Linked DNA regions of Homo sapiens: region 1 is linked to region 2. The links come from fine-mapping of genetic effects on gene expression. A gene starts in region 2. The other region holds a variant in brackets. All regions are shown on one strand. Distances are from middle to middle.

Region 1 (4,396 bases), 83 kb before region 2:
ACTAGTTTCTGTATTTCTCACAAAGGGAATTTGTCCATGAATTGTTGTTGAATCAGTGTATTTGTTGGGGGAAAGGAGAGTCTAGGGCCTCTTATTCCACCATCCTGCTGCCCCAGTACTTTTTAAAAACTTTTTTCAACCAGCAAATATTTACCGGACATCCATCCACTCTGCATCTGGCACTAAGTAGGTCTTGGGACACAGTAGAATGTAAAACAGAAATTGCCCCTGCCCTCAGAAAAAGTATATTCTAGTAGCATAGGCAGGCAGAAGCAAGTAAAGAAACAAATAAAATAATTACAAATTGCATAAGTTCTACCAAAAAACAATGAGGAGATGACACGCAGAATAACAGTGAAGTTTAAGGAAAGAGGAGGTAACATTTCAGCTGAGATGCAAAGAATAAGGCAAGAAGGCCATTAAAAGAGGTGTGCCTTTGTATAATTCCATTTCTAGAAAACATCCAGAAAAACAAATATATAGACATAGAAAGTAGATTAGTGGTTGCCTGGAGCTGGGGGTGATATGGAGAGTGACTGTAAACGAGTATGGGGTTTCTTTTGGGGATGATAGAATTGGATTGTGATGGTGGTTGTATAACTCTGTAAATACACGAAAAAGATTATTGAATAGTACATTGAAAACAGTTAAATTTTATGATGTAAAATTATCTCAGTAAAGCAAGAGAGGGGGGAAAGAAAGAGAGAATAATGACTGGGAAACAATCTTTTCTGAAGGCCCCCTGACCAGCTCTCATGAAACTCACAATGCTTCTCCCGGGTTGCTCAAGATTCTGATTCGTGAATTAAAGGGACTCTATAGGAGAAGACAAAGGGTTTTTTTTTTTTCCTTACTTATCTTTTGGGTTGCTCTGACTCAAAATAGAGAACATACATTAATTACTAAGAGTGCTACTTCACATGATCCTATTTGCATTATAAGTATACTGTTCCCGAATTGTGGTTCACATAAACAGAGAGAGAGAGAGAGGTGGGAATATTATCGCAGGTGGAGGGAACTGCAGGTACAAACGTTCTCATGTGGGAAGGCATGTGGCATGTGTGAGGAACAGAGAGGACACCCCTGATCTGGACACAGAGAGAGGTAGGAAAGTAAGAGAACTGAGCAGCCAGATCACGTAAGGTCTCCTAGGTCATGGTAAAAATCAAGTTGCTTTCAACTTTATAAAACACACCCATGCCATTATTTCCTAAAGTTATTCATGTCTTATTAGGTTGCTGCAAAAGTGATTGTGGTTTTTGTCATTACTTTCAATGGCAAAAACCACAATCACTTTTGTACCAACCTTAATAATAAAGAAAGGACAGAGTATAGAGAAATGATGCCAACCTGCTGTTTTATAACGTGCTGCCCCATACTTTCTCCCATTTGCTCTGCCCAATAACCCACCCCAAAGAATCTACTTTGTTAACTTCAGTTATCAGATGAGGAAATTGAAACAACTTGCCCAAGTTGATACAGCTATTAACATGAAACCTAGGAATTATTTTTATTTATGAATGAATTATCCTTACTTTTCTAATATCTGGCTTACCAAAATCCAGATTGTCAATCTCCCTGTATCAGTTATCTGTCACAGCATAACAAATTACTCTAAGATGTAGTAACTCAACCTTTAATATTGCTCAGGAGTCTATGGGTCAGCTAGGTGGTTGTGTTGACCTGGTCCTGACTCAGCTGATCTTCACTGGGCTTGCTCATGTGTTTGCAGTCACCTGGTTGGTCTAGGGTGACCTCACTAACATGTTGGTCATTGGCTGACTGGTCACTGGGGCAAAGGAAGTAACTGGGTCACATCCCTTTAATCATGCAACAGGCTGAGGTTTTTTACATGACAACAGCGAGGTTCCAAGAGAAGAAGTGAAAGCACGCAATGCTTAAAGACGTAGGCTTAGAAGGCCAGGCGGGGTGGCTCACGCCTGTAATCTCAGCACTTTGGGAGTCTGAGGCTAGCAGATTGCTTGAGCTCAGGAGTTTGAGACCAGCCTGGGCAACATGGCAAAACTGCATCTCTACAACAAGTATAAAAATTAGCTGGGCATGGTGGCACACTCCTGTAGTCTCAGCTGCTTGGGAAGCTGAGGTGGGAGGGGGCGACCGAGCCAGACCCTGTCAAAAAAAGAAAAAAAAACGACTTAGGTTTAGAACAGACACCTATCTCTTTTGCA[T/G]TCTATTGGTCAAAGACAGTGACAAGGCCATCAGAATCAGGTATCTTTGCAAGGTATCTTTGCAATCCCATTTCACAAATAGCAAGAGGTAAGTTGTTCTTAAAGTACTAATGATTAGGAACTATATCTAGGGTCCTGCTGTTCCCTCTGATCACTGCTAGGTACCCACAGACACCTCTGGTTATAAGGAAGCACAAAAAAAATTATTATATCTGTTCATCAATTTGCCTGCTCCTTCTACATCCCCTTCTTAGAGATTCTTCTGCACAGTGTCTGGCTCGACCCCTCCACCCTGGCCATAGCTAAACCAGGTGAATGCACAAGGTGGACATTGGACCCAGTTGGGCCAAAGAAACTCTCTCTGTTTCCCAGGGCTGCCATAACAAATGACAACGACTGGGTGGCTTGAAACAACGGCAATTTATTCTCTTACAGTTCCAGAGGATGAAAATCTGAAATCAAGGTGTTGGCAGGATTGGTTTCTATGGCAAGCCCAAAGGAAAATTTGTTCCACTCTTCTCTCCTAGCTTCTGGTAGTTCCTGGTAATCCTTGGCATCCTTTGACTTGTGGAAGGGTAACTCCAATCTTTTCCTCTATCTTCACACAGCATTCTCTCCTATGCCTGTCGTCCTATAAAGACCTCAGTCATTGGATTAGGGCCCACACTAATCCAGTATGACCTCATCTTAATAAATTACACCTGTGAAGACCCTATTTCCAAATAAGGTCACATTCTGAGGTTCCAAGTAGACCATACATTTTGGGGATACACTATTCAACCCAGTACAGGCATTCTCTGTCCCAGGCATTTGGAGTCAAGACTTGGAAATGTCCATTTGCCTTTGTTGGCTCTTGAACAGAAAGGACATGTAAGGACTGAATGAAGTAGCCATTTTCTGCCATATACGTAAAAGCAGAGGACATCAGTCTGTACAGAGGAAAAGAATGAAGCAGATGTTTAGAGAGAAGCAGAGATGACAAATCATGCAAAAGATGCTGGGACAGACAGACAGACAGACAGATAGACAGACACACTTTCCATTAGTTTCTGAGGGTTTTCAGAGTCCTGGCTTAGTCCCTCATGGGGCCAGGTTGAACTTCCTACCCTTGCATTCCAGGAGATAGCTCTGTATCCTTATAATAAATGTCCTTCTTTAGGGTAAGTTATCTTGAATGGATTCTGTTTATTGAAACCTAAAGAGATCCTTAATGCCAGTGATGACCTTTTATCCTGCCAAGATAGCTTCCAGTCAGCATGACTAGGGCTTTAGCAGAAAGTATCAATCACAAAGTGGAAAGTCTCGTCCAGGATGTTGCTGCTGTCTCTGTTCCTGGCACAATGTTACAAGTAGTGATGGTTCCCAGGCCGATCACAAAAGCTTCTTTAATACTACAGTGCTATTAGCATGCTAGCTTAGCTACAGAACAGGAAGATGAATAGGTAGATGTTTAAAACTTCATACAAATAACTCAAGTAAATTCATACAATCTCTTTTAGGGCCTGCCAAAATTAGGGATATTTCTCCTCCCTTTCTAAACATTTTTTGTTTTGTTTTGTTTTTAATTTTACAAGAAAGAAAGAGACAGTGCCTGATCAACGTGTTTTCACTCTCCTTTTAATTGCAGATAGCTGCTATGTGAGACGAGTAATGTCATAATATGTTATAGACATTTTAACCATCTAATATCTTGTGAACATGTTATAAGTCGATCTTCTCCAAGAAAGAAGCCAGAACTCACTTTCCCAGGCTCCCTTGCTGCTCAGATTTAAGCACGTGATCTAGCTCTACCAGTCAGACATATGTGAGACTTCAGTTTGGAAATGAATCACATGAGAAGGCAGACACTATGCCAAATCCATATTTTAATGACTGAAGTAATGAAAGTATTGAGATTTAGGAGGCCGTAGTAGCACAGCTTCTGTGGTCCAGTCCCTCACATGATCAGTGATAGCACCATATGTATGCTGAGCAATAGTGTTGTCCTCATTGTAGTGACCCCACAGTGTGATTTGGGCTTGGTTTCTAAATGAATAGCCTCAGACTTCATCTCTGGCCTTCCCTGAGATTCTGTAAGCCTCTTATATCCTTTAATGAATTTCTTCTTTGAATAAACCAGCAAAAGCGGATTCTGTTGTTTGCATCTGAGAACCCTAACTGATATAAGATATTTCTAGCATTTCTCCTACCTTCTGCTGAAGGTGTAA
Region 2 (4,396 bases):
GCACTTCAGCCTAGGCACAGAGCGAGACCGTGTCTCCAAAAAAAAAAGGAAAAAAAAGTTTCTCATCACTGAATCAGATTATATGCTAAAATTTTACATGGTTATCATGAACATTATTTATACCTTTCTACTTAGTTTTCTTATGGTCATTTTCCCCACTAGAAAATCCAAAATAAGGATTCACAAAATTATGTAATAACTTCAGAATTGCAAATAGCCTTAGAGATTATCTAGCAAAATCAAACACTCTTGTATCATGACATAGAGGAAAAGACTAAAGGCAAACTGCTTAAGTTTCTTGCTCAGAGCTTCTTAATACAAGTTGGTGCAAGACAATTCAAATCAACATCAAAATACTTGCCTGTGTAAGACCTTATGCTGGAGGTACAACAATAAATAAATGTCCCTACTTCTCCAAGATACACAAGCTAGTAAAGGGCACATACACATATACATGAAGTCATCATAGAAGGCACACATGCTAAAAGGAAGGAAAAACTAATTTCTTTCCGTTTTAGAGAAACCAGTGAAAACTTCCTGAAGGGAAAACATCTGAACAGAGGTTTGAATAATGGGTAGGACTGCTGTTATAGACAAGATGTGAGGGCATAGTAGGAAAAGCCAAGAAGCAAGTAAGTGCAAAGTATATTCAGAAAAAGTAAGTAAATCAGCATGGTTGGGGGAAGAGTGATAGAAGATTATCTAAGAAGAGTACAGACAAATCCTAAGAGCTACTACTTCCTATTTTCTTCTTTAGCCCACCTCTTTATCCCCCTCGGACCCAAAAACTTAGAAAAGGGTTAAATATAATTGGGAACTCAGTAATAATTTATAATAATAAAAACATTAATGGCAACTAGAATTCAGAGTGGGATTATCACATGCCATAAACATACTAAATACTTCATATGCATTATCTTGTTTGAATTTCCTTTTTAAAATCTACTAGAGCTACATAGATGGCATGTGCCTGTAATCCCAGTACTTCAGGAGGCTGAGGCAAGAGAATTGTTTCAGCCCTTAAGTTTGAGACCAGCATGGGCAACATAGCAACACTTCATCTAAAAAAATAAATAAATAAAAATTAAAAAATTTTTTAAATCCTAAGAGATAGGTACTAACATAACGCTCATATCATAAAAGTGATAACTGAAGCTTATTAAGAATAAGTAACTTTTCCAAGATCACAGTTAAAAAATGGATTCATATACAACTCATCTGTCTGCAAAGCCTATGAACTAAACCAAAATCAATGCTAACAAATGGACAGACCAGAAAATTTACAATCAGATTATCAATTTTCAAATACCGATTTTTTATTTTGGGGAGAAATACAGCGACTACTTACCCTAACCTTTAATGAATGCTTTTGTCCTAAGGCTACAGAATGCTCTGGTATAAAGCTTCAAAATTTCCTACAACTGAGTGGCCTTAGGCAAGTTATTTTACGTTTGGGGACTTCAATTTCCTTGTCTGAAAAACGGGTATAGCAGAACCTACTCGTAGAATGTTATGAGAGTGAGTTAAAGCATATAAACCGCTAAACACAATGTCAGGTACGACGTAAAGCAGAGTTGTCCACAACACGGTCCCTGCCCATGTAAGCAAGTAATCAGAGAGGTAACTTGAAAAGTTGGACGCTTCCATATGGAGATGGAATAGTCTAACCTTGTCCAGAAAGATCACAGTAGACGTTCGGAAATCGCATTTACAATCGCCCTTGGGTTATGGGTAATCCTGATCCCTGTACAGTTTATGCAATAAGGTGGAGAAAAAATAGAGTGACAAAGCAGAGACTCGGGCTGTCTCATTCGCCTCAGTAACCCCAGAGCCTAAAACACAGTTAGGCACGGAGGCGCTCAGTTACCAACTGGCAGAATACTAAAGATGCCTTGGGCCCTTCCGAAACTCCGAAGCGAGAGACTCACCCCAAGGCCAGCTTCCCCCGGCTCCTCAGGTTATGTATCCATAACGCACCTGCAACATCAACACAAGCCGTCAACTCAGATTCCATCTCGACTCCCTTCTGTCGCTTAACCACTAAGAAATCCTTACCCAACTGTCCCAGTACTGCCGCCGCCATCTTTCGCCCTCCCGCTACGGAAGCCGCCGAGTTCAAGCGCCTTCTGGACAGCACGCATGCGCAATACTCTGGATTTCCTGTGGGGCTCTCCCACAAGCAGTACTTACACCCCAGGTGCCGTCACGAAGATCGCAAGCACTGGGCCGGCGCTCGAGGTGTGGTCAGGCGAACCTGGCTTGGGAATGAATTAATTAATAAAGGCCGAAAGCACGTGGGCTTCCGAAAATTCACCTGGATTCAGAAAAACTAAAGTCCCAACTCACAAACTAGAAAGGAGTAGGGGAACAGAATCCGTGAACAAGCCACCTAATCCGGTGGTCCTCAGTTTTCTTATCAGAAATGACTAACCTTAGGGCACAAGCTTGTTGTAAAGATCAGTTGAAATAGTGTGAAAGCTATTTTATTTCATTTTATTGAAACAGGGTCTCTCTCTCGCTTAGGCTGGAGTGTGGTAGCAATGACCTAGTCTCACTGCAGCCTCGACCCCGGGCTCAAGCCACCCTCTTACCTCAGCCTCCCAAGTAGCTGTGACTACAGGCGCACATCACCACGCCCGGCTAATTTTTGTATTTTTTATAGATAAGGAGTTTCCCCAAATTGCCCAGGCTGATCTCGAATTCCTGGGCTCAAGCAATCTGCCCTCCTCGGCCTCCCAAAGTGCTAGGATTAGAGGTATGAGCCACGAAACCTAGCCTAAAATCTCTTTTAAAGAGCAAATAGTTCAAATATGATGTATGCTGTCCTAATCCCTACTAATCTGGTTGACCTTCAAGAATGAGTTTATATTCATCTGGCATTTACTGCCTTATGTCAGGCAGGTATTTCACTAAATCTCATTTATTCCTCACAGCAATCCAACAAGGCATGGATTATCATTTTCCTTCTTCAAATGAGGAAACATATTTAGGATATGTTAAAGTCTCTCAACTAACAACTGGCAAACCAGTGATCAATCTACGACTAGGTGCCTCCAAATTTGTGCCCCTAGACGCCTTCAAATATATGTATTTGACCCCTCTGTATTAGAATAACAGGTAGTTCAGATTGCGGTTTGCTACCTATGCAGGAATGTCAGATACCCAATGCAAACAAGCAACACACGAGTAGTGCAGAATCTGAGCATTTTAGCATTTTTGAGTTGAAAGGAAACTTTCTTCCACACCATTTACCACATACAGCTTCCTTCACACAGCTGGCCCTCAATCAAGCAAATCAAGAGTCACTCCATTTGCTTCTCCTTCATCTTTGAGTACCCAGAACCCAGAGCCAGAATTTCCACCCAGTTGCAGAAACTGTTCTTTCCCTTTTTAATTCCAGATTCGTACTTTCATATTTTTGTTTGTTTTGTTTTTTTGAGACAGGGTCTCACTCTATTGCCCAGGCTTGAGTGCAGTGGCTCGATCACAGCTCACACCAGCCTGTCTCCCGGACTCCATATTGTAATGCCCAACCTTGTTTTTACTAACCCTGTTTTTAGACTCTCCCTTTTTCCTCTGATCACCTAGCCTTGTTTCCACTTGAATTGACTCTTGCTTAGCTAAGAGAGCCAGACAGACTCCATCTTGGCTCTTTCACTGGCAGCCCCTTCCTCAAGAACTTAACTTGTGCAAGCTGACTCCCAGCACATCCAAGATGCAATTAACTGATAAGATACTGTGGCGAGCAATATCCGCAATTCCCAGGAATTCGTCTGATTGATAGCACCCAAAGCCCCCAGTCTATCACCTTGTAATAAATAGTCTTAAAGCCCCTGCACCTGGAACTGTTTACTTTCCTGTAACCATTTATCCTTTTAACTTTTTGCCTACTTTATTTCTGTAAAATTGTTTTAACTAGACTCCCCTCCCCTTTCTAAACCAAAGTATAAAAGAAAATCTAGCCTCTTCTTCCGGCTGAGAGAACTTTGAGCGTTAGCCATCTCTTGGCCACCGGCTAAACAAATGGACTCTTAATTCGTCTCAAAGTGTGGCGTTTTCTCTAACTCACTCAGGTACAACAATATTTTTGTTAAGTGGCCTCTTGTGCATATCTTTTTTTGTTTTGTTTTGTTTTTATTTGAGATGGAGTCTCGCAATGTCGCCCAGGCTGGAGTGCAGTGGCGCAATCTCTGCTCACTGCAACTTCCGCCTCCCAGGTTCAAGCGATTCTCCTGCCTCAGCCTCCCTAGTATTTGTTGTCTAGGGATTGTTGCATTTTACTTTTTTTTTTTTTTTGAGATGGAGTCTCGCTGTGTGGCCAGGCTAGAGTGCAGTGGCGTGATCTCCGCTCACAGCAACTTCCGCCTCCCGGGTTCAAGCGATTCTCCTGCCTCAG

Direction of the effects. Alleles are on the strand shown, and positions count from the first base shown. SD is a standard deviation of normalised expression in the study named.
With allele G in place of T in region 1, the expression in coronary artery of the gene that starts at base 2,121 in region 2 is higher (small effect, 0.23 SD a copy in GTEx).

The links. PIP is the estimated chance that this variant, and not a neighbour inherited with it, causes the effect. A credible set is the group of variants that fine-mapping cannot tell apart.
Region 1: its variant is the best candidate, but not a certain one, in a credible set for the expression of MRPL22 in coronary artery (GTEx, PIP 0.79).

What each region holds. Positions count from the first base shown.
Region 1 is chr5:155,021,630-155,026,025 of GRCh38, reverse strand. No RefSeq gene overlaps it. Among named protein-coding and RNA genes, the nearest start is that of KIF4B, 10 kb to the right of the region's middle. RefSeq lists an enhancer at 1,563-1,857. The variant T/G (reference allele first, on the strand shown) is at 2,190.
Region 2 is chr5:154,938,798-154,943,193 of GRCh38, reverse strand. MRPL22 (mitochondrial ribosomal protein L22) reads right to left here and starts at 2,121. Exons shown (of 7, transcript NM_014180.4): 1 at 2,056-2,121; 2 at 1,929-1,977. The coding sequence starts at 2,083. RefSeq lists an enhancer at 2,022-2,181.